Homo sapiens: one gene and its partners. The protein of the gene in region 3 purifies or fractionates together with the protein of the main gene of each other region. This does not show direct contact. Each region holds a gene or a part of one and is shown on either strand. Other genes may lie near its edges.

Region 1 (7,114 bases), on a different chromosome or scaffold from region 3:
CAGCCTCCCAAGTAGCTGGGACTTCAGGTGCACACCACCACACCCAGCTAATGTTTGTAGTTTTTTGTAGAGATGAGGTCTCACTATGTTGCCCAGGCTGGTCTTGAACTCCTGGGGTCAAGTGATCCTCCCGCCTCAGCTTCCCAAAGTGCTGGGAGTACAGGTGTGAGCCACTGCGCCTGGCCACATACATTATTTCTAATCCTCACAAACAGCCCTGCCAAGAGGGTGCAGCTATCCCCAATTTACAGATAAAGAAATCCCAGAGAGAGAGGAAATGGTGTTGCCCAAACCACATGGGAACCACGTGAGAGAGCCTGTGAGCATTGGGCCTTGGCATCTTTGAAGCCACCTCCTCTTGCCAAGCTGCTTCTCAGCTGGCACTGCTTTTAGGTTCTGAAGCATTGCAGAGCTCAGCGTTGGGGAGTTATCGGGCCTCATCATTTTGGTTTCCTGATTAGATTCTTCCTTCATGCCAATTTCTCAGTCAGAACTTATATTTTAATTTAAAAATGATGAAGTTATCAGTCTGGTTTTTAAAAACTTACTTTGGTTAAATTGGAAACTCTTAGTAGTGTCTTACAGCAAAAGGTGGAGATTTCCTGTGGAACCAAGAATTCTCAGTAGCAAGAAACTCAGCTGGTCGGTGCCTGTTATGTATACACCAGTTCCCTTAGTACAGCCACTTCATGAGGAAGATATTAATTTGGCCAGTCTCATAGCTGGTAACTGTTAGAGCTCAGATTCTAATGCAGATATTTCTGGTTATGGTTGTCAGAAAAACTTGTGGTACCTACTGTGTGTTAGGTACTTTCATATTATGTTTTTAAATTCTCATAGTAACTCTCCAAATAAGTGGGATTTTTTTTCTATTTCTTTTTTCTTTTTTTCATGTCAGTGCCCTTAATCAAAAAAGTGCTATTTTTTATTTTCATTTTACAGATGAGGAAACTGAGACTGAGAATGTTTCTTGGGTCATAGATTCCCATTGTCAGCTTACAGCATTCTTAGTGTCTCAGTAATTCTGTTTTTACAGCACCGCTATGCCAAAAAGTACCTAATAGTCTCATTTATTAAGTAGTTATGTCCAAACCATTTAATATATATTTATGTCCTTACAATTTATTAGCCATTTGAGAAGATAATACACACAAATTGAAAGAAAAAATATTTTTATTTCATTCTTAAATATCATAGTTACTTCCTAATGGTATGTGTGCCTTTTGGTACTGCTCAAATCCTTAAACCTTAGGATCAGATTGAACGCTACGACCATCATTCTGATTTCACATCGATTTTCACAGTTATTTTTGTCAGAGCAGCTATCCAAACGCAGCTCCACAAAGATATGATGTCACCAGAAGAAATGTAACTTGAGCTCCTGGTTAATGCAGTGTTCAACAGATGTCACATTTCACTGTGTTCTCCTTGAAAATTTAACATATCCTGTGGTGAATTAAATATGACACCCCAGTTGCCACAGCGCAAAGTTGGAGAACTGCAGATTTGAGTCAACCTTAGGTGTGTCTAATGCCAGATCTGTGTTTTATTTTCCTTTTTTAAAATTTGATATTTCTACAAAATTAATTTTAATTCAGTGTAAGGTTTTTAAATGCCACAACAGTGGACAGAGTTCAGATCTAAGTTACCCCTGTTTGTTCTCTTGCTTAATTCTGTGTCTTCCCTATAGCAGGTGCCTAATAAGTATTTATTGAAAGGAAGAAAAACTCCCCCCAACTTGAAAACAGGAGCTTACAAAATTGAATAAAGGACAAGAGGCATTAGATCCACAGAAAGGCCATGGCTCTAGTGACCTACTGTCTTTTGGCTTCTTTCAGTTAAGTGTCTTGTTTTAAACAAGAACCATGGCCCTTGCAATGCTAATGTATAAGTTGGTGTGGCTTAAATCTTTTAAAATATAATAGCAGTACTTGGAACTTACATAATTTGAGTGGGAAATTTTATTCGCAAATCCTTGATTTTGATAGAGATGCTTACTCCTTGGCTTTTCACCTTCATGTTTTGATTTTCGTTAATATGAAACCATTTTTCTTAAAGTGAAACATACCACAGGTTGCATTTAAGCCCTGACTATTATGCTGAATTTCTTGAAACAAGGCTTCAAGCTCGCCCAGGGAGCATACCTTACATTTAGCACATGTAAGACCTTGCATTTATAGATCTTTTAACCTAAGATGGTCATACTTGGTTGACCTCCTGAAACCCTGTAGGCTGCACTTAGCTTGATGAGGAAGACGTGCACAGAAAACTGAAATGATACTGAATATTGCTTGATTAGGTACAACTCTTCCTCTTTAAGTATAAAACCAATATCTAAACAGATCTGTGAATGGCGGTAAGGTGACGGAAGTGTTAGTTCCAAGATAAACACTTCCCTTGTCTTTTCCAAGTACAGAAATTCTTTGTCATTTCAAAAACACAGATAGGTAGCAAAGGTTGCTGCTGATTAATAATCATTGTTTACATGCCTGCATTTTAAGGATCATGGGCACCATAAATAAAAACACACCACTGAGACTCGCTCCTCTCTATGCACCTTTATCCAGGGGGCAGTGATAATGGTGAGATATTTAAGTCTCACTACCGAAGCAACACTGAGGACAGCCATGAAAGATAGTCTGTGCAGTAGATGTGTCCCCTCTGAAACTCCCAAATAGCAGAGCATGCAGCGGGGAAAGAATTGTGGGTAGTAATTTGGGTGTTAAAATATTAACACATTTTTGCATATTTAATGTGGTTTCTGTTTTAAGTAGTAGGCAGATTATGGCATGCAAGCAGATAAGTTTATGATTTCAAATTAAATTTTAAGCATTAAAAAAATCCAGAAGGAACTACTTTGTGATAAATACATTCAGTTAATCAAGAATTGCTTTCTTCTCTGCTCATATATTAACTAATTTATAGCCTAATTTCATGATTGTAACTTGTGAATTAAGCTTCATGGTGAGTTTTAATCTTAAAAGTTCAAAACTCTCATTCATCTAGTTCACATTTGGGTACTATGGGCTAGACATATATAATCTCTGGACTCAAAATGGGAAATCTTGGAAGTCTTCACCGAGGAGGTAACCTTAATACCTGGGCATTAAGAGTGTGAGAGCCATTGTTTCAATCTGTCACTTTACTTGGTTCTGGTCTCTTGAGAGCAGAGGCAGACGTTTTTACCCTTAACTGCCTTTTCCTTTTCTAACTTCTGCTTCTCTCTAACTCAGATCATAGTACTCGTGAAAAATTTGTCCTGGGGAAGGAAGCAAGACCCCTTAACATTTTTCTCATTTCTCCTATTTCCCCATAGGCAAAGATGCCTTTTGATGCCAACAAACTGTATTGCAGTGAAGTGCTGGCCATATTGCTCCAGGACAATGATGGTGAGGCGCCCTCTCAGTATTGATATTCTGTTAGGATAGGAGCCAGGCTTGTTTCAGATCATGACAGCAAGCTCTCTTGCCTTTGGCATCCCCTTGCTCTCCCTCTCACTCCCTGTGCTGCTTTTGTACTCTGTCAAGCTGTATTGATTTTGTTTGCTGATGTATCAGTGTTAGACGGCTGTAAAATCTGACAGTTAGGTTCATTTTTTTTCTTCCTCTATTTTTTTCCCCTTTAGAAAACAGGGAATTGCTTGGGGAGCTGGATGGAATCGATGTGCTTCTTCAGCAGTTATCCGTGAGTAATTCTTATGCTTCCTGTCTGCTGTAAGATACATGGTCTGCTTTGAATGGGAGGTGGAGCTGGAAACTGTGGGAAGGAATAAGCCATGTGCTGCAAGCCATATGGAGCATGTTGGCAGGTTTGAGGGTTATACGGAGGGACATGGTTTGCCTCCTTTTCTTAGTCATTTGCTCTTTATGACCAGACATCACTGTGTATCAGTTCTGAACTTTCTTCATCTTCTGATATGATATTGTCAACTCAAAAAAGATGTGCCTCATGCTTAAGTGTGTATGTTCTGGGCCAAGCATACCAAATTATTTTCATTTGACCCACTGCCAAGATTATTCACCAACCTTCCTTTCAATCTGCTGTGAAAATGGAGTATGTTCATTTAGGATCTGAATAAGCTCAAGGAGTACAAGTTCCACTGCAGTGGGGTGGGGGTCAAGGGGAGGATAGGGGAGGATGTGGTGCTGAAGGCTGGAGTGAGAACTTGGAAACTGCCATTTTCTCACTGTAAGAAATGTAAATCCAGTTGAAATGTTATTCTGCTGGCATTCTGAAAATACTGTTAAGATTTCCTCTTACAAGTTTTAGCTGTGTTATTCTAAAAACAGGACTGAAAATAGATCATTTGGATAAAATCTTAAGAGTGTTGGGAGAGTCTGAGATGTCAGTTTGCATACAGCTTCCATCTTGGTGCCAGCAGCCTGAGTGTCTTGGCCTCCACCCCAAAAATAGAGCTTTGAAATGTGAATCTGTTTCCAGTTCTGGGAAGGTGCTTAGTCCTTTTCCTGTGAGATTATTGATCTTCTTGTAGTAGACTGTATGGGTATGCATATACAGTTTAAAGGCTTCTCTTAACATGCCTTACATCTCTGGCAAAAAGAAAACTAATGCTGTAAGCCCTTCCCATGAATTAAAGCCCCAGCTCCCCTGTGAGGGAATTCAGTAGCCTTGGTTGTCAGGAAATGCTTCCTTATATTGAGCCACGATTCAGCCCTCTGGATTGTGGTTGCTTTTAGAAGGGAAAGAAATGAGATATGGTTGGGTTGGGCAAGTGGAGGGCTTTGAGGGGAGTTGGCAAAGTTGTTTCTCATCCTGGATAATGATTTCAGGGGTGTTCACTTCATTTAGTTTTATATGTCCTTTATGGAGTTTTTCTGTATCTGTGTTATATTTCACGATAAAAAGATTTTGTTTTTTATTGGGTTTTGGTTTTTAAAAAAATCTGCTTGCCTGGAACTGTCAATTACTGATGGACCCAGTGGTCAGTAGAGTGTTTTGGCTTTTTTTTTTGCATGTATTTAATATATGTGAATCATTTAGTTTCTCTAAAATGGAAACTGATGAGAATTTTGTTTGGTGAGCTTCTGTTTCCTCAGTCGTAGAGTTATGACCCACAGGTTTTAGGAATTGTTGGATGGAGGCTCATGAAAAGACATTCTCTTATAGCTCTGTGCTTTGTGCTGTTTTTGCTTGACAGGTGTTTAAAAGACACAATCCCAGCACGGCTGAGGAGCAGGAGATGATGGAGAATCTGTTTGATTCCCTCTGCTCCTGTCTAATGCTTAGTTCCAATCGTGAGCGCTTCCTGAAGGGCGAGGGTCTTCAGCTGATGAATCTCATGCTCAGGTATGTTTCGAATGCCCTAGTTCTCCCACCTTTTTTGCCTGACTTTTCACTGTTAGCCTGAATTCAAGAGCATGTAGCTATGATCATTTATTCTGTTGGGTTTCCTAGACTTTACCCTGAAGAGTAAAGTCTTCAGGCATGGGGGGATGTGTTTGTATAGGTATGTGGTCTTTCCTAAAGTTAGAGTAGATGAATAAAAAGTATATTGTGTTCTGTTTGTGCCCTACTGTGGTGGTTGCTAATACGTCCACTCCATTGAAGGACATTGGTGTTTTTCCTCTCCTTCCCATAGTGTGTTAGTTTTGGGGAAATCTAGCCATTACTTCTAAACTTGGACTAATTTTCTGTATATATCACATAGACCTATCTATGCCATATGTTTGTATTTTTATTGAAAGCAGCGTATCATTCATATTTTTCACTCCTCATTCAGTAATGAGTTGTACATGTGCTGTATGCCTAGCTTAGGAAATATGAAAACGTGCAAGACAGTTCTAGAAACTTTTATTTATAGTACTTTCCTTGTGTGTCTTATTATTTATACGCTAATTCCTGAAAGTGGATCTTATATTAGTTTCACAGTTATTTTATAGAATCCTAAAGTTAGAAGCAAAAAGGGGAGAGGAAGCTTATGTTGATAACTCTTGAGACCCTGTCTAGGAAGGGGAGTAGAGAAGTGTGTGGGGGAAGGCTGAGGGGATAACCAGACTGTGGTATAGGGTCAAGGGACTTAAAAAAAAAAATCGAGCATGTTTATGTGGTTGGAAGATTCTAGTCATTATGAATTGTGCCCTACAGAGGAGCAAGTTGAGATTTAAAAAAAAAAAAAACAAGAAAAAAAGAAATGGAGCCAGAGTCTGCTGTCTTAAAACTTCAAGTATACTGAAAGTTCTGTTGAACTAAGATATTTCTTTGGAAAGGTTTTTCATAAATGTGATATATATTTGTTAAATAGAATTTAGAATACTAACATATAAAACTGCTATTAAAACATTGACAAGGTACTATGTTAAGTACTGGGCATACACAGAAATACCTAAGACAGAATTTCTGTCTCCACAAAGTTAGGAAAACAGTTCTGTGAGCTAAACACAGCCTGTCTTTGGGTGTATATTTTCTTCTAGTCTTTTTTTCTATAATTTTTAACAACTTTTTAAGCCTGCCACACATAGGATTTTCTGTATTGCTACATTTCAGACATAAGATGCTGTTTCCCATGCTGTGAATAATCTTCATGAGAGTTTTCAGTAACTGCATCATGGCCTCTAAGGGACTGTAGCTTACTTAGTATTCTTCTGTTGTTGGCATTGAGGATATTTCCAATGTTTTGCCGTTATAACAAATTCTACAGTGACCATTTTTGTGTTTAAAATGATGTTAGGATTATCCAGGTACAGTAAGTCCTCACTTAACATCATCAGTAACATTCTTGGAAACCATAACTTTAAGCGAAATGATGTATAATGAAACCAGTTTTTCTGATCATTGTTATAACGGTGTTATTTGAGGATCTGACCTCCTATATCCCGTTTTACTTAAAGTTGCCATTTCCAAGTCTATCTATGATGTTAAGTGATGACTTACTGTGTATATTTCTAAAATATATTATCTTTAAAAGGCTTCTGGGGGGCTGGAGGCACAGTAGACCTCTTCATTTGTCCAGTGTGTACCAGACCTTGCATTGACCAAAAGTCTTCCTTTGAGGAATTGCTTTTAAAAACAATTTTTAAAAAAATGCAGAGAGGAGCATGAGAAATTACTCAGAGGCCTTTTGTGTTTAGCTGATTTTTGCTAGCTTTACTCTCTT
Region 2 (7,114 bases), on a different chromosome or scaffold from region 3:
CAAGGTGGTGGTCAAGTCAGGCCGCAGCTACGTGGGCATTGGGCTCCCGGGCCTGAGCTTCGGCAGTGAGGGTGACAGCGATGGCAAGCTCTGCCGCCCTTGGGGTGTGAGTGTAGACAAGGAGGGCTACATCATTGTCGCCGACCGCAGCAACAACCGCATCCAGGTGTTCAAGCCCTGCGGCGCCTTCCACCACAAATTCGGCACCCTGGGCTCCCGGCCTGGGCAGTTCGACCGACCAGCCGGCGTGGCCTGTGACGCCTCACGCAGGATCGTGGTGGCTGACAAGGACAATCATCGCATCCAGATCTTCACGTTCGAGGGCCAGTTCCTCCTCAAGTTTGGTGAGAAAGGAACCAAGAATGGGCAGTTCAACTACCCTTGGGATGTGGCGGTGAATTCTGAGGGCAAGATCCTGGTCTCAGACACGAGGAACCACCGGATCCAGCTGTTTGGGCCTGATGGTGTCTTCCTAAACAAGTATGGCTTCGAGGGGGCTCTCTGGAAGCACTTTGACTCCCCACGGGGTGTGGCCTTCAACCATGAGGGCCACTTGGTGGTCACTGACTTCAACAACCACCGGCTCCTGGTTATTCACCCCGACTGCCAGTCGGCACGCTTTCTGGGCTCGGAGGGCACAGGCAATGGGCAGTTCCTGCGCCCACAAGGGGTAGCTGTGGACCAGGAAGGGCGCATCATTGTGGCGGATTCCAGGAACCATCGGGTACAGATGTTTGAATCCAACGGCAGCTTCCTGTGCAAGTTTGGTGCTCAAGGCAGCGGCTTTGGGCAGATGGACCGCCCTTCCGGCATCGCCATCACCCCCGACGGAATGATCGTTGTGGTGGACTTTGGCAACAATCGAATCCTCGTCTTCTAATTGCATTTCCTAGGTTTCTGTGTTTGGGGTGTGTGTGCGTGTCTCTCTCTCTCTCTCTCTCTTTCTCTTTCTCTCTCTTTTTGAATTTCAAAGAAGAAACAGTCTCAGGGAAATTTCTTTTTTCTTTTTTTTTTTTAAAGAGAACAAGAAAAGTACAACATTGCTTAAGTCCTACCTCATCTTTATTTTTTTACAGATGAATGTACTTATCTTTTCTGCAGGGATTGAGCCTGTGAAGTGATAATTTCTATCTACCTCATAAATCTTTACATTTCCTTCTGCAACAGGCCCTCTTCCCCTCCTCAGTGGAGTTTGCATTTCCCTCTTCCCCTGCGTGGGGCATGATATGCACAAGCCTGGCATCTGTATGGCTGGGAGGGCACTGGATGTGTGTGGTGGGGTGTATTCTGTAGATTGAGCCAAGGAAACACAAAAAAAAACTACTAAGTAAAAAAACAAAAAACTATAAAACATGGAAAAAATAGGATTTGAAATGCATAATTATAGAATACCTGTGTTCTTGAGAATACTGTTTATATGGGGTTTAGATTATGTTGTGTTGTTTTGATCTTTTTGGAAAATCTTCTCTTTTTAAATGCTGCAACAGAGAAATTTCCTCTGTTCTCTGTTTATACCTCAGTGTGTTTAACATCCTCTTCTGCATCGTTTCTTGATCTTAGACGTTGTGGCTGTGGCTTGCTAGCCAAGAAAAGCAGACCCTTCATATTTTAGGGTATATAATCTTTGTTTCTTTTAAGGGAGGGTGTGTGCATGTTTGTTTCAAAGCCATCTTGCACCCAAGTAGTAAAGCTGAAAATGACACACTGCCTCCCAAAGAACCTCTCCTTTTCACACTTTGGTTTCTTAAAAAAGTATATAGATGGTAGCTCAGGATTTTTGATTAAACATATTCTCAAAAGTTATGCTTTCTTATTTTGCTGTTAGGTTATAAAGGGTTAAATGGAAGGAAAAAGGAAATTAACCTCGTTCTCAGAGAGAGGGTTTTCAGGCATGGGCTGACGTGGACATGAATGTGGGTGGACATGCGTGTGCTGAGGGAGTCAGGGAGCACATTAAAGAACAAGGCACCCCCAAACTATAGGAACTCCACAGAAAGGGCAGGGTCTGCCCTGACCCGCGAGTGCATGTTGTTCTGTAGTGCTAGGGGTTTCTTTTCCTAAGAAGAGTAGGCAAAGGAAAGAACTTTTATTTTACAAGCACAATTTTTTCCTGCTTTGAAAGTTCAGGGAAATAGAAGGTTTGAAAGTCAAATTAATACCAACAGCCCAGTCCCACACCCTCTGCTTGGGTCACTTTTTATAGGATTGTTTGCACCCAGGCCATGCTTTAGGACCTCATGGTTAACATGAATCCCCCCGCCCCCTCTCCCCCCAAGGCCTTTGACCATAAAGGATCTAGAAACCAAATTGTCCCAACCTGAAATGTAGGATGTAATGTCTTTTCTTAAACCTGTAACTCGGTACCAAAGAATGAAAATTTAAGGCTCCCACTGCAGAACTGTGGGGTAGAATCTGTGTCACTTTACAGGATTGGTTGGTTGTAAGCTGGACTTGGGTACAAAACTTGTGCTTCTGGGCATTGTCTGTCTTTCAAGTGCAAAGCAGATGTAGCTGATACCCTGCTTGTCAGAACCCAGTGGGTTCCTGCAATGCCCCAAATACTGAAATAAGAACCAAATTCTGGAGGAGCCCTCCTCAGGGAAAAGAGGGACTCTCAAACAAACGTCAGTGACTTACAAGGGAGACCTCTTGTTTAAAGACTTATGGATCAACTTCTGTTCCTCTGTTTAAGAGAAATTTCTATTGCAAAATGGGTATCGTTTTAAATGAGCAGAACAGATTAACAAATGGAGCAATTTGTTTCTGTTATCCCAATAGAAAAGGAGATGATGGGGACAGTGTGACAAGTCAATCAAGTTGCTTTTCCCGTACACCTCTTTTGGACGTTTAATTTACTACTACTACAAGCTACTCTGTCTCTTCCCATTGCTTTAATTCTAGGGTTTCTGAGTGACCAAAATGGGAAGGAAAAAAAAAACCTCATCTCACAGAGGAGAACTGCATGCAATAAAAGATTCAAAAGTTGGAAAGTAGCTTCAAACTGCTGCTGGCTCCCAGCTGCTGTTACAGGGTGGGAAGGTGTTAGGAAATGTTGTTTGTTAGAAGCTCCTTTTACTGTAGAATTTAATAGTGAATCCTTCCCCAATGCCTATTCAGTTGCCTTTTGGCCGTTAAGCTCTAAGTTCTTTGGTAAAGAGTTAATATAATTAAACATTTTTACTGTTTTCTATTTTGGAGTAACTTGGTGCTGATCTTCCTTCCCTTTCCCCAGCTGCCCAACAAGCCACCCTTTAAACACCAAAGACAACTGGTTTTAAATGCTTGAAAAAAATTTTATTGAGGAGATGGATCTTGATTAAAATCTTTTCATCATCATTTTCATTCTGCTCTTTTCTTTCTAATTTCCCCAGATGTAGGAAAATTTTGGGACCTGAATGAGAAATGTTCTTGGTGCATAACAGTAACTAGAGCTCCTTATTTGACATTTTACTATGGATGTGATCGAAAAGCCAAGATTTTCGCTCCATGGCTGAAATTATCAGGTCTTAATTTACAGACTTGTAAATTTGCAGGCTTAGAGCAACTAGAACTATCCCCTGAAATAGGTGTGTAGGTCAGAGATACTACCTCTTTGTCCTCAGTGGTGGTATATCTATCTCCTTACCTTTCTGTACCCAAAATGGTGCATGACTGGTATTTGAGAAACATGGTCACATTTGGAAAGCTTTTGTTTTTAAAACATTGGCGGTTTTTCCTGCCCGTGGTTGACTCCTGACCCATAGGGATTGGTGCGAAGCACTTTGGAGAGTGTTTATTGTATGATGTGAAATGTTCTAAATCAAAGAAAGATGATAAAAGCCAACATTTGGCAGTCCCTAGTGTGAAACTGTGAAAAGTACCTGTGTTTAAATGCATAATCTCCTGCCCGGGTAATGCCAGGTAGCCAGGAGTTGGGTCAAAGAAGGGAGTCGTCATCCTGATGGAAAAAATAAGGTCCTGGGTATTATGAGGTAGGAGAATAAAAAGGTTTCTGGGGAGTAAGTATGACAATTACTAGTCCCCATGGAGGTCTGATCTGGTCAGGTGGCAAGGGTTGGGTGGGGTATGATGTAAGCTCAGTTTATGTGTGGAGATGCCCATTGGGTTTGGATATATAGGTTTGAGTATTGAGATGTTTAAAGGACATCTAACCCATAGGTAAAAACTACTTTTGCTTGACACTGACTTAACATTTCAAAAGTGTTATTTTTGGTCCCAAGATCTAATGCTGTCTCAGAACATGTGCCCTGTTGTGGCTGCAAGTGGCACTCAAGTTGACTAGAGCACAGTGACCTGGGTTGTACCCCAAGTGCACTAACTCCTCAATGCCCTTTTAAGTCTAACTTATTTGGGAAACACATAACAAAGGGTACCATAAACCGAATCCAAATTACGTGTTGGGCCAAAAATGTTGCCAGAACTGAGGCACTTTGTGATGGAGTTGCAAGAGATAGCTTGAGATCGGCTCAGTCTGATTTATTCTAGTTAAGCCAAAGCTTAATTATTTGAGGAGGAAAGTCTTTTAGGCTTGAAGCAGCAAAATACTGTTTATATATGTGTTACCTTCCTCGTTGGAAGATTCTACGATTGCTCTGTTCTGGTAGGTGGTGAAAGATATGCCAAAGTTTTAGGCTTGTTTTTCTGATCTTATTTTTTTAATCCAGTGGTGCCAAAAAGTATTTAGGGTATGTTTAAGGTATATTTAAAACATCACTCTGAATGAGTTTCCAACAGTCTGGGGCTGTATAAAAGTCACACTCTTGTACTTGCAGGTGATGGTGTCACAGGGCCAGGGCCTCCAGAGCTCTACGGCTTTCTCTGGTTTTCTATAGGGCCAAGGGCACAGGACGCAGCATTCCAGACCACACTGACTGCTTTTGCTGAGTTTCTACCTCACTTGTGGCAAGTCATCTACCTCATGTTAGCATCTGACAGGTCTCAAAAAGAATAGTATTAATCCAGTGGGCAGTGGGTGGGAGTGGGAAGCTACCTCTAAAAGAAATGTTACCATAAATCTACAACTGATTTCTCCCAGGAGAAATGTTCTACTTACCTTGAAAGAGAAATGTCAGGCAAATGTAGTCATAAATCCAAGTAGTTCTTAGCAATCTGGCTTTTCCCCCTCAAAAAGAATTATGCATACCATTACTGTTGTTCAGTATTATGAAACTACTGGTTAATCTGACCTATTGGAGGACTTAACTACAAATAAAGACCTTTAGGTCTCTTTCTCTTCAAGAGAAAAATATTTTATCTGTATTTCGAATGTCTGCAAATAATACCCTTTAGGAGCAATTCTAAAGGTCTAGATCTTGGAAACATCAAATATTTGAAGGGAATGAGAATCCTCTTGACTTCATGATTGTATTTGTAGCTCTCTGGACCCGGCAGGACGTTCATCACCATGATGTTGCAACAATCACTGTTTTGACTGAGCAGTGACTGTTGAAGTGTGTATTGCTCTTTTGTTTTGTTTTTATTTTTTTCTACCAAAGGTAACATGTTGACGGGTTTTTTTTTTCCTTGTTTATTAAATACTTGATAAAGTTGAGAAGCACATTACCAGGATATACTGTATTGACCCTCCCACCTCTCTTCTGCCCTAATTTTTGGTTGTTTGGAAGAGAGGAGGGTCCTAAGACCACTGTCATTATCATGAGGGGCTTATAAATGTCATGGTGAAGAAATACCTCAATGATGTCTATTTTTAAAACTGATCTTACGGGTTAACAAGCCAGCCTGGTGGGATATTTTCCATCATCATTTAACCAATAATGGTTCTAAAAGTTTTGTGTATCCACATGGTCTTAGACCTCCTTTTAATGATTGTATTAACTTACAAGCTCAGGTAGTATTTTTCTTAAGACTCTATCTCAGAGCACACTGACTGAATGTTGATGTGTGTAGCAAAGTGTTTACTTTCTTTAAATAACCAGCTCTGTAACTCTGTAAGTTCTTTGTGTTTCTAGCAGTCTGTGTAGTTGTCTTTCTTCAGAGGAAGATTTTTCACATTTCTGGGGTTTTCTTGCTTTTAGGGTGGTAAGATTCCTTTCTTTTTTTCCCTTTTCTCCTAAAATCGATGCAGGTAAGGGTGGGTGGGTAAGGGGTGTTGTTTTTTAACTAGCATGTTAGTTATACTTGGGTGGGTGGGAGGGTTGTTAAACTGAATCTTGCTTAATACTGTCCATTAGCTCTCATGCCGGGTCAGCAAAATGCTTTAATTTTTAACTGCAGAACATGTGACTCGGTTGAGTCTTTTTGTCTTTTTTTTTTTTAAATAAACAATTGGGGGAATTAATGTGGGCAAGTTGCCTTATGTTAGAATGACTAAGTTAAACCTCTTAATTTGTATTTGTCCAAGGCAGACATGATATAAGGAATATGCACTACCGTAGTAACTCCCCTGGCCGCAGAAACCACACTGCAAGCCTGTCCGGGGTGGGGTGCTGACTGCCATTTGCCACTTTTAAATGGGCACTGCCGTGGTAATGTGAATCCCATCAATGCAGTAGATGGGTGGGGAAATGAAGATTTCCCCCCAAACCTTTAGGCAAAAGTGAGTTTTTGTTTGGTTGATTTTGGGTTTTTTTCCCCCCTCCTCTTTTGGCTTTCACATTTTAAATCTTAAATGTTACTATTGCAGGCCGCAGGCATGACAGGCAATGAGCAGGTGAAGAACCAATGGAAAAGTGTTCAAAAACTCCTGTGTTAGCTAACAGGCTTCTGAATGTATCACTGTGGTCCACAGAGAAGGCTGGAGGAGGTAGCAAGGAGATGCTGTATCAGCTACTACAGCCTTAAAACAAAGTTGGTGTCTCTTTGGACTTTAAAATTGTTCCTATGCAGCTTATTTTATTTTTGTTTAATCAAATAAACGAGGGTTTTTCCATGGCTACAGTGTGTCTGTGTGATCCTTTAATCCATAGTAAATAAGGGTATGTGCACTGTACTGGATGGAAAGGGAGTCCCTGAGGTAGACAGTCCAGGAGCTGTACTGTGACTGGTGGGCCAGATTGGGCCCATGCGGTGCCTTCAAAAAGAAAAAGGTGATGGGAGCATTTTTAAATAGAGTAAATGTTAAAGAGCCTAAAAGTTATGGATTGTCACGAAATTT
Region 3 (6,958 bases):
CTTTGGATCCTAAAAGAAGAAAAGAATGGGTTCGCCTGGTTAGGCGCAAAAATTTTGTGCCAGGAAAACACACTTTTCTTTGTTCAAAGCACTTTGAAGCCTCCTGTTTTGACCTAACAGGACAAACTCGACGACTTAAAATGGATGCTGTTCCAACCATTTTTGATTTTTGTACCCATATAAAGTCTATGGTAGGTAATGTTACTCTCCTTTTGTTAAAACCATTTTTAGAACTCATTCCTTTTTGTTTATGCAGTTATTAACTGAAATTCATTTATAGTGATATGCCTCAAAAAAGTTGCAGACCTTCCTCTTGTACAGTAAAGGTACAGGCTAGAATCAGAGTTTGGGTCTCCTGACTCCAATATTCTTTCCCCAATCCAAATTGTTTTACTATATTGGAATTTTACATTATTACCCATTATTATTAATAATTGCACCATTGGTAAAACTGAAAAATCATATGAGTAATGAAACCTCCAGCATCACTGTGCTCTGATTTTAAAATGACATACAAATAACATGTGCAAAGTACTTTAAGAGCACACAGCCAGAATTAAACCAAAGAATGTAAGTTCAGAGGGAGGCAGGCATGACAGAAATCTTCAGAGAGCTTGGGCATTCAGGGTGGGCTTTTGAAGCCTTGGGAGTTTAAAATAGAGGAAAGGGAACTTGGCTTTGCACAGAATAATTACAGTTGCATAATGAGAACAAAAACGAGTGGGTTGAGGCGTGAGTAGGAAATGTTAGCAAGTGATATTTAAAGGAAAGAATGAAGAAAAAATGAAGCAAAAAAAAGTAAATTAAAAAAAACGAAAGAATAAAGGTATAAGATGAATGAATTAAAACAATGTTTTATCTAGTTAGGGAAGATCTGACCAGAGAGGAAAACCTAGCTGGGAAAGACAGGGTCACCAAGAGTAAGAAAGGGTAAAATGAACACAAATAGTTTAGCTTTGAAAGGGAGGACAAACATGTTTTCCTCTGAGGAAAAACTACTGTTTCTCTTGTTTGTAACTGTTAAACTTTTAAATGTATATGAGTTATTATCTGAATGGAGACGAGGTTGTGGTAAGCTAATTACCACTGATGTTAGAAAAGCTCCAGGAGGACAAGAACTTAGTCTTTTTCACACGTGAATCCTCAGCACCTCAAACAGTGCCTGGGACATAGTATATACTCAAATACTTACTGAATTTGAAATACACCTTATTTTTGACATTTTGATAATTTATTTATTTAATAAATACAACTAAACTTTCCATTATGCCAGAATCTAAGCTCAGTGCTAGAGATACAAAGATCAAAAAAGAGTTCCTGTCAATTCCCTAGGCAGAGGGACTAACTGTAGGTTTCATGAGGATAGGAACCACATCATCTTATTTGTTCAGTGTTGTGTCCCCAGGAATGCATAGTATGTGTTTCAATAAATGTTTAATGAATTAAAGACACAGACTTATGAGGATATGATATAATCTGGAAACTCCCAGTGGCTTAGTATTGCTGGAGTATAAATCAAGATGGTAAATTGCAGAATGGGGTGAGATCCTAAATTGTATAGTATGCCATCTAAAGATTTATTTTTCCTTTAGATAATAGATAGGCAAAGAATAATTTGGCCAGAATGGAAAAGTCAAATATTCTAGAAAAATTATTCTTATGGCAGAATGTGGATTAATGAGGATCAAAATGAAGTGGAGAGATCAATAAAGAATAATATAGTCAGAACAGATATGATACGGGCCCAGTGTAAGTAGTGACATTAAGAATGACAGTGTTCAGCCTTATTGTGGAACAGAGAAAGGAAAAAAAAGAATGACGGAGAGGAGAGGATTCATGGTAGGAATATTTAGTGGGTAGAATTAATAGGACTTGATGACCATTTGAATGAAAGAGATAAAAGCAAAAAAAGTCTCCTGATTTTGGCAAATGTTCCTAGCCAGATTTTAAATCCTTGAAGATATAACCATCAAAAATTAATAGGTAAATCTGTTTAGAAGCTTGGTACTTAAGAATACATTTCTACAGATCCTTCAGTTTTCATTAAATAGGACCCTGGGTCTAAAATATTTATCAAATTGAGAAAAGGGTATTTAATTAAAAGGGGATCAAATTAATATCATAAATAATATCTACATATATTGTAAATTGACCTTAGTAAATTGCAAAGGATCTTTAAAGTCTCTATAGAGTCATAGTCAATAATTTGGAAGAAACCTTGGACGTCCATTGTCTATTTCCAAATCAGTGTTTGAATCTCTCTGGATATGGGACAAAAAGAAATAGGTGACTAGAGTTAATTCAACCAGTTAAAAAACTTAATCTTGGATTACATGAGATGGCTGCTGCTGTTTCCTATTAAAGTTTTAAAATTGACTTTTAAAAGAGCAGTTTAAATACTGTTATCCAAAACTGGACACTATGTGCTTATTTGTGATATTTCATAATTTATGTTCAACCCTCTAATTTTATTCGGCTCAGAAACTCAAGTCAAGGAATCTTTTGAAGAAAAACAACAGTTGTTCTCCAGCTGGACCATCTAATTTAAAATCAAACATTAGTAGTCAGCAAGTACTACTTGAACACAGCTATGCCTTTAGGAATCCTATGGAGGCAAAAAAGAGGATCATTAAACTGGAAAAAGAAATAGCAAGCTTAAGAAGAAAAATGAAAACTTGCCTACAAAAGGAACGCAGAGCAACTCGAAGATGGATCAAAGCCACGTGTTTGGTAAAGAATTTAGAAGCAAATAGTGTATTACCTAAAGGTACATCAGAACACATGTTACCAACTGCCTTAAGCAGTCTTCCTTTGGAAGATTTTAAGATCCTTGAACAAGATCAACAAGATAAAACACTGCTAAGTCTAAATCTAAAACAGACCAAGAGTACCTTCATTTAAATTTAGCTTGCACAGAGCTTGATGCCTATCCTTCATTCTTTTCAGAAGTAAAGATAATTATGGCACTTATGCCAAAATTCATTATTTAATAAAGTTTTACTTGAAGTAACATTACTGAATTTGTGAAGACTTGATTACAAAAGAATAAAAAACTTCATATGGAAATTTTATTTGAAAATGAGTGGAAGTGCCTTACATTAGAATTACGGACTTAAAAATTTTGCTAATAAATTGTGTGTTTGAAAGGTGTTTTTTGTTTTTGTCTTTTTAAACTACTGTTAAAAGAACAGCTTATGATAAGTAATATGTTTAACTTAGAGAAGAATTTTTTCCTGTACCAAAGTTGGCATATTGCATTCTAAATAAGATGCTAAATAAGAGTTAACCAACATTCAACATGACCTTAAAACTGCTGGGTTTTGTATTAATTAAATTATAATTGGCACTGTGATTTGAAAAATTTATAGAAAAAAAGGTACAGGGCAAGTTTTTAAATTAAAACTTTCTATATTTTGTTTTACCAGTAAAAGTGAGCTTATCATGGCCTCTCTCATAAGAATGATTTTAAAATAGGTTGTAAAATATTTTGAAAATATTTGAATGTGAAGTACCATTGAGTCATCCAAACTAGGTAAGGCCTCAAGTACTTTAAACTAGTAAAATCTAGTAGCTGATAATATTCACCTAAGTAAGTGTTGTAAAATAATTCAGAGTTCAGGACCTAGCTTAGATAAATGTATACTACTCTTTTTCTCATAATAAAAATCTTACATTTCCAACTTCAAAATTGGTGCTTCCATATTTGTTGATAACCAAAACTCCTAAGGTTTTTTGTTTTCTTTTTAACTACTTTCCAAATGCATACTATACCTCAGAAATAGTGTATCAATATAGTGGGCTTTTTTTTTCCTCTTCATAAACCCACAGTAAAATTTAATCACAGGAAACTACTTATATCTTCACACTTTGTATTGATAACTTAAAATGGCATCAGTTTATCTTAGACATCAGCTTGCTTTTTATCTCCTTTTTTAGTGAGTGAAATAGAGCAACTAGCATGCCTGTGTTCCCAGCTACTTGGGAGGCTAAGGTGGGAAGATCAATTGAACCTAGGAGGTTGAGGCTATAGTGAGCTGTGATTGCACGACTGCACTCCAGCCTGGGCAATGGAGTGAGACTCCTGTCTCTAAAACAGCAACAACAAAAATAAAGCAACCATAGTGCATAAGGGAAATTAAATGTTCCCTATAGAAATATGTGTATGTCTGTGATAGTGGTATGCAAATGCTAATTATTTTATAAAATAAAAGTTCAGAACTATTCTTATCATTGCCACTTGAACAATTAAAGGGTTTGCTTTATTTCACTAATGTTTAATAGGAACCCTTTGCTTCAAACAGCTTTGTTGAAATCATGTAAAAATTTGTTAATAGAGAATCAAGTTATTTAACTCAACTTATTTAATTCAAGCTTGTGATACTAACATACAAAGGTAGCATAAACCAAGTCATAAATTGCTGTAATCTTTCCTGTAAAGTAATAGCTACTTCATGATTTTTTTAAAAATTTCATTTTTTTGCTATTTAGGATTGCATTTGCTTGGCTCCTAGTAACAATTCTTTTACAGTATTAGCACTCTCTTTACTAAGGAATGCCTCCCAAGGAAATGCAAAGGTAGGAAAAGTCTCTTAGAATGCCCATGAGGTATTTAAAACAGATATTTATGAAAATCTTTTTGTGAATGTTATAAATCTTGCTAGTTATTTTATCTTTATCTTAAGTATTAGATGTAGTTCCTTGGAATTGTCATTACATATTTATTTTTTTCTAGTATGGTTTCAAATAACTTTTTGCCAACATATAATCATCATCAAACATTCACTGACCATATCTATTTTATAACTCAAAATAAGTTGGACAAATAATCATTTTAATAAAAACTATTTTTTCCAAGTATAACCACTGTCATGTGGTTCACCCTTCACCCCAGATACAAAACACTTATTTGTGTAGCCCAGTTCCCATCTACAGTAATACCTTGAAACCTTAATAAATTTTAAAAATCATAAAAATAAAATATTGTAAAATACAACAAATTTTGGACAAGGTTACTTCATCTTCATTCATTATTACCTGACAGTATTAAACTACTACTCAATAATTTTAGAGTAAACTTTTCTGTGTTTTCTCCGTGATTTTCATTGTGCTGTCCTGACAACATGCTCCAAACTCTTTGCATCAAATTGTTTTATTAACATACATTTGTCTACCTTAAAACTAGCTTTATTCACAGAGAAAAACCTAAAAGGAGTCTATTAAAATGCTGCTTTCAGTTTGATAGTTTTTTTTTTAATCACTCTGACCATAAACTAACTGAAATTATAATGGATTTTTTTTCCTCTCCCGGTCACAACACAGATCTTCTGTTCATTTGTTCTCTGTCTACTGGGCACCAACCTCTACAAAGAACCAGCCAAAGGCTAGGTACTTGATATAAAAAGGAATATTACATTATTTTCTGCCCTCAAGTTGCTCTATCTCCTGAAAGAAACAAGTAATATTTATAATACAATATGATAAATGCTACAAAAGAAATAGCTGTAAAGTCCTTTGGTAAATGCTGTTGAATTGGAATTCAGTAAGAACTATAAACTGTAGACCTTTTTATAATCAAATGCTTTTGTCTTGAAACAAAACAGATTCCTCCTTATATTGACTTAGCAAAGGAGGTACAAGGACATTGGCATTTGACCTGAATTATGGTGTTTTATTGAATGAGCTATAAGACAACATTTTTACCCTTTAAAATGAACACTGAACAAATGTGTTAATGGTATCTTTGTTAAAAGGAAAACATAGCTATAAATAAAATACTACATCGAAATCCAGCACTGGAGTTCATTTGAAATTTGATATTTTGTGTAAAATAACAAACCTATTAACACAGATTTTTAAAATAACTCAGAATCGTATAAAGCACTTTGGTACTTATTTGTTCTCTTTTCCCTTACATTCTGTGTGGTAGGTGGTATTATCTCTGATTTACACATGAAGACATCCTTGTTAATGCAATTTATTTATTCATTCGGGCATTTACTGTGTGCCAACTTGCAAAAGGAATAGAAATGTCTGTGATCTAGATAGTTCTAGATTGAACATAGATTTTCTGCCAACAAATCCTCTCTGCTGTTCACATTATCCTTTGTTTAACGTATGAACCAGGTTACTAAAATAGGATAAATCATGTGTCTTAAAATATGAAAATAGTAAAGTCTTTGAGGTCACTTGATCTTCTCTAAGTAGACTTTATAATATTGTGTTTTATCTCATTTCTCAATATTAGAATACGGGTAGATTTTAATTTTGCTATAATATAGGAAATGGTTCATCTTTGTACCAAAATATTGCATTCTTCTGATATTTAGACAGTTGGAAACTTTCTAAAATTGAGGATTTTGTAGTGTATACTAAATAATTGCATATTCAAAAAAATGTATTCTGAGTATGGTGATATTAAACATTTTTCCCCAAGGAAATTACTGTCATGCCTGTTATTTCTAAAAAATGTACATAAATATTTCTGTGAAAGTTCTTTTACATTGACCCCCTGAAAGACTTCTGTGAAGTCCTTCTCCCTAAACTGAAGCAAATGGTAGAACAAAGATAATGTAAAGCCTTGAAGAGAAATTATTTTCATTTTTGTTGCTCACATTATATCTAAATGTACATTATAGTTTATTTGCACTGTTTCAGATAATAGGCAATCTAGACAAGATATATGAACGGCTATGAAAATGGTAACAGTCTATCTCTATCCTGACCATAATTTGAGGCTCACACAAAAATGTATTTGCAGGCTAGGTACAGGAGTTCATGCCTGTAATCCCAGCATGTTGTGGGGCTAAGGCGGGTGGATCACTTAAGGCCAGGAGTTTAAGACCAGCCTGGGCAACTTAGCGAGACACCCATCTCTACAAAAATAATGAAATAAAAATTAGCCAGGCACAGAGGCATGTGGCTGTAGTACCCTAGCTACTCAGGAGGCTGAGGCAGAAGG

What was found.
Region 1: the proteins of THAP2 (region 3) and CTNNBL1 purify together in Homo sapiens (affinity purification with mass spectrometry; 3 studies listed by BioGRID and IntAct, with this or other methods). This does not show direct contact.
Region 2: the proteins of THAP2 (region 3) and TRIM71 purify together in Homo sapiens (affinity purification with mass spectrometry; 3 studies listed by BioGRID and IntAct, with this or other methods). This does not show direct contact.

The regions. Positions count from the first base shown.
Region 1 is NC_000020.11:37,774,029-37,781,142, forward strand, and holds part of CTNNBL1 (beta-catenin-like protein 1), read left to right. Parts: intron 1-3,316; coding exon 3,317-3,389; intron 3,390-3,625; coding exon 3,626-3,684; intron 3,685-5,158; coding exon 5,159-5,307; intron 5,308-7,114. UniProt on the Homo sapiens protein: Component of the PRP19-CDC5L complex that forms an integral part of the spliceosome and is required for activating pre-mRNA splicing.
Region 2 is NC_000003.12:32,890,932-32,898,045, forward strand, and holds the end of TRIM71 (E3 ubiquitin-protein ligase TRIM71), read left to right. Parts: coding exon 1-880; 3' UTR 881-6,893; downstream 6,894-7,114.
Region 3 is NC_000012.12:71,674,208-71,681,165, forward strand, and holds the end of THAP2 (THAP domain-containing protein 2), read left to right. Parts: coding exon 1-191; intron 192-2,481; coding exon 2,482-2,901; 3' UTR 2,902-6,437; downstream 6,438-6,958.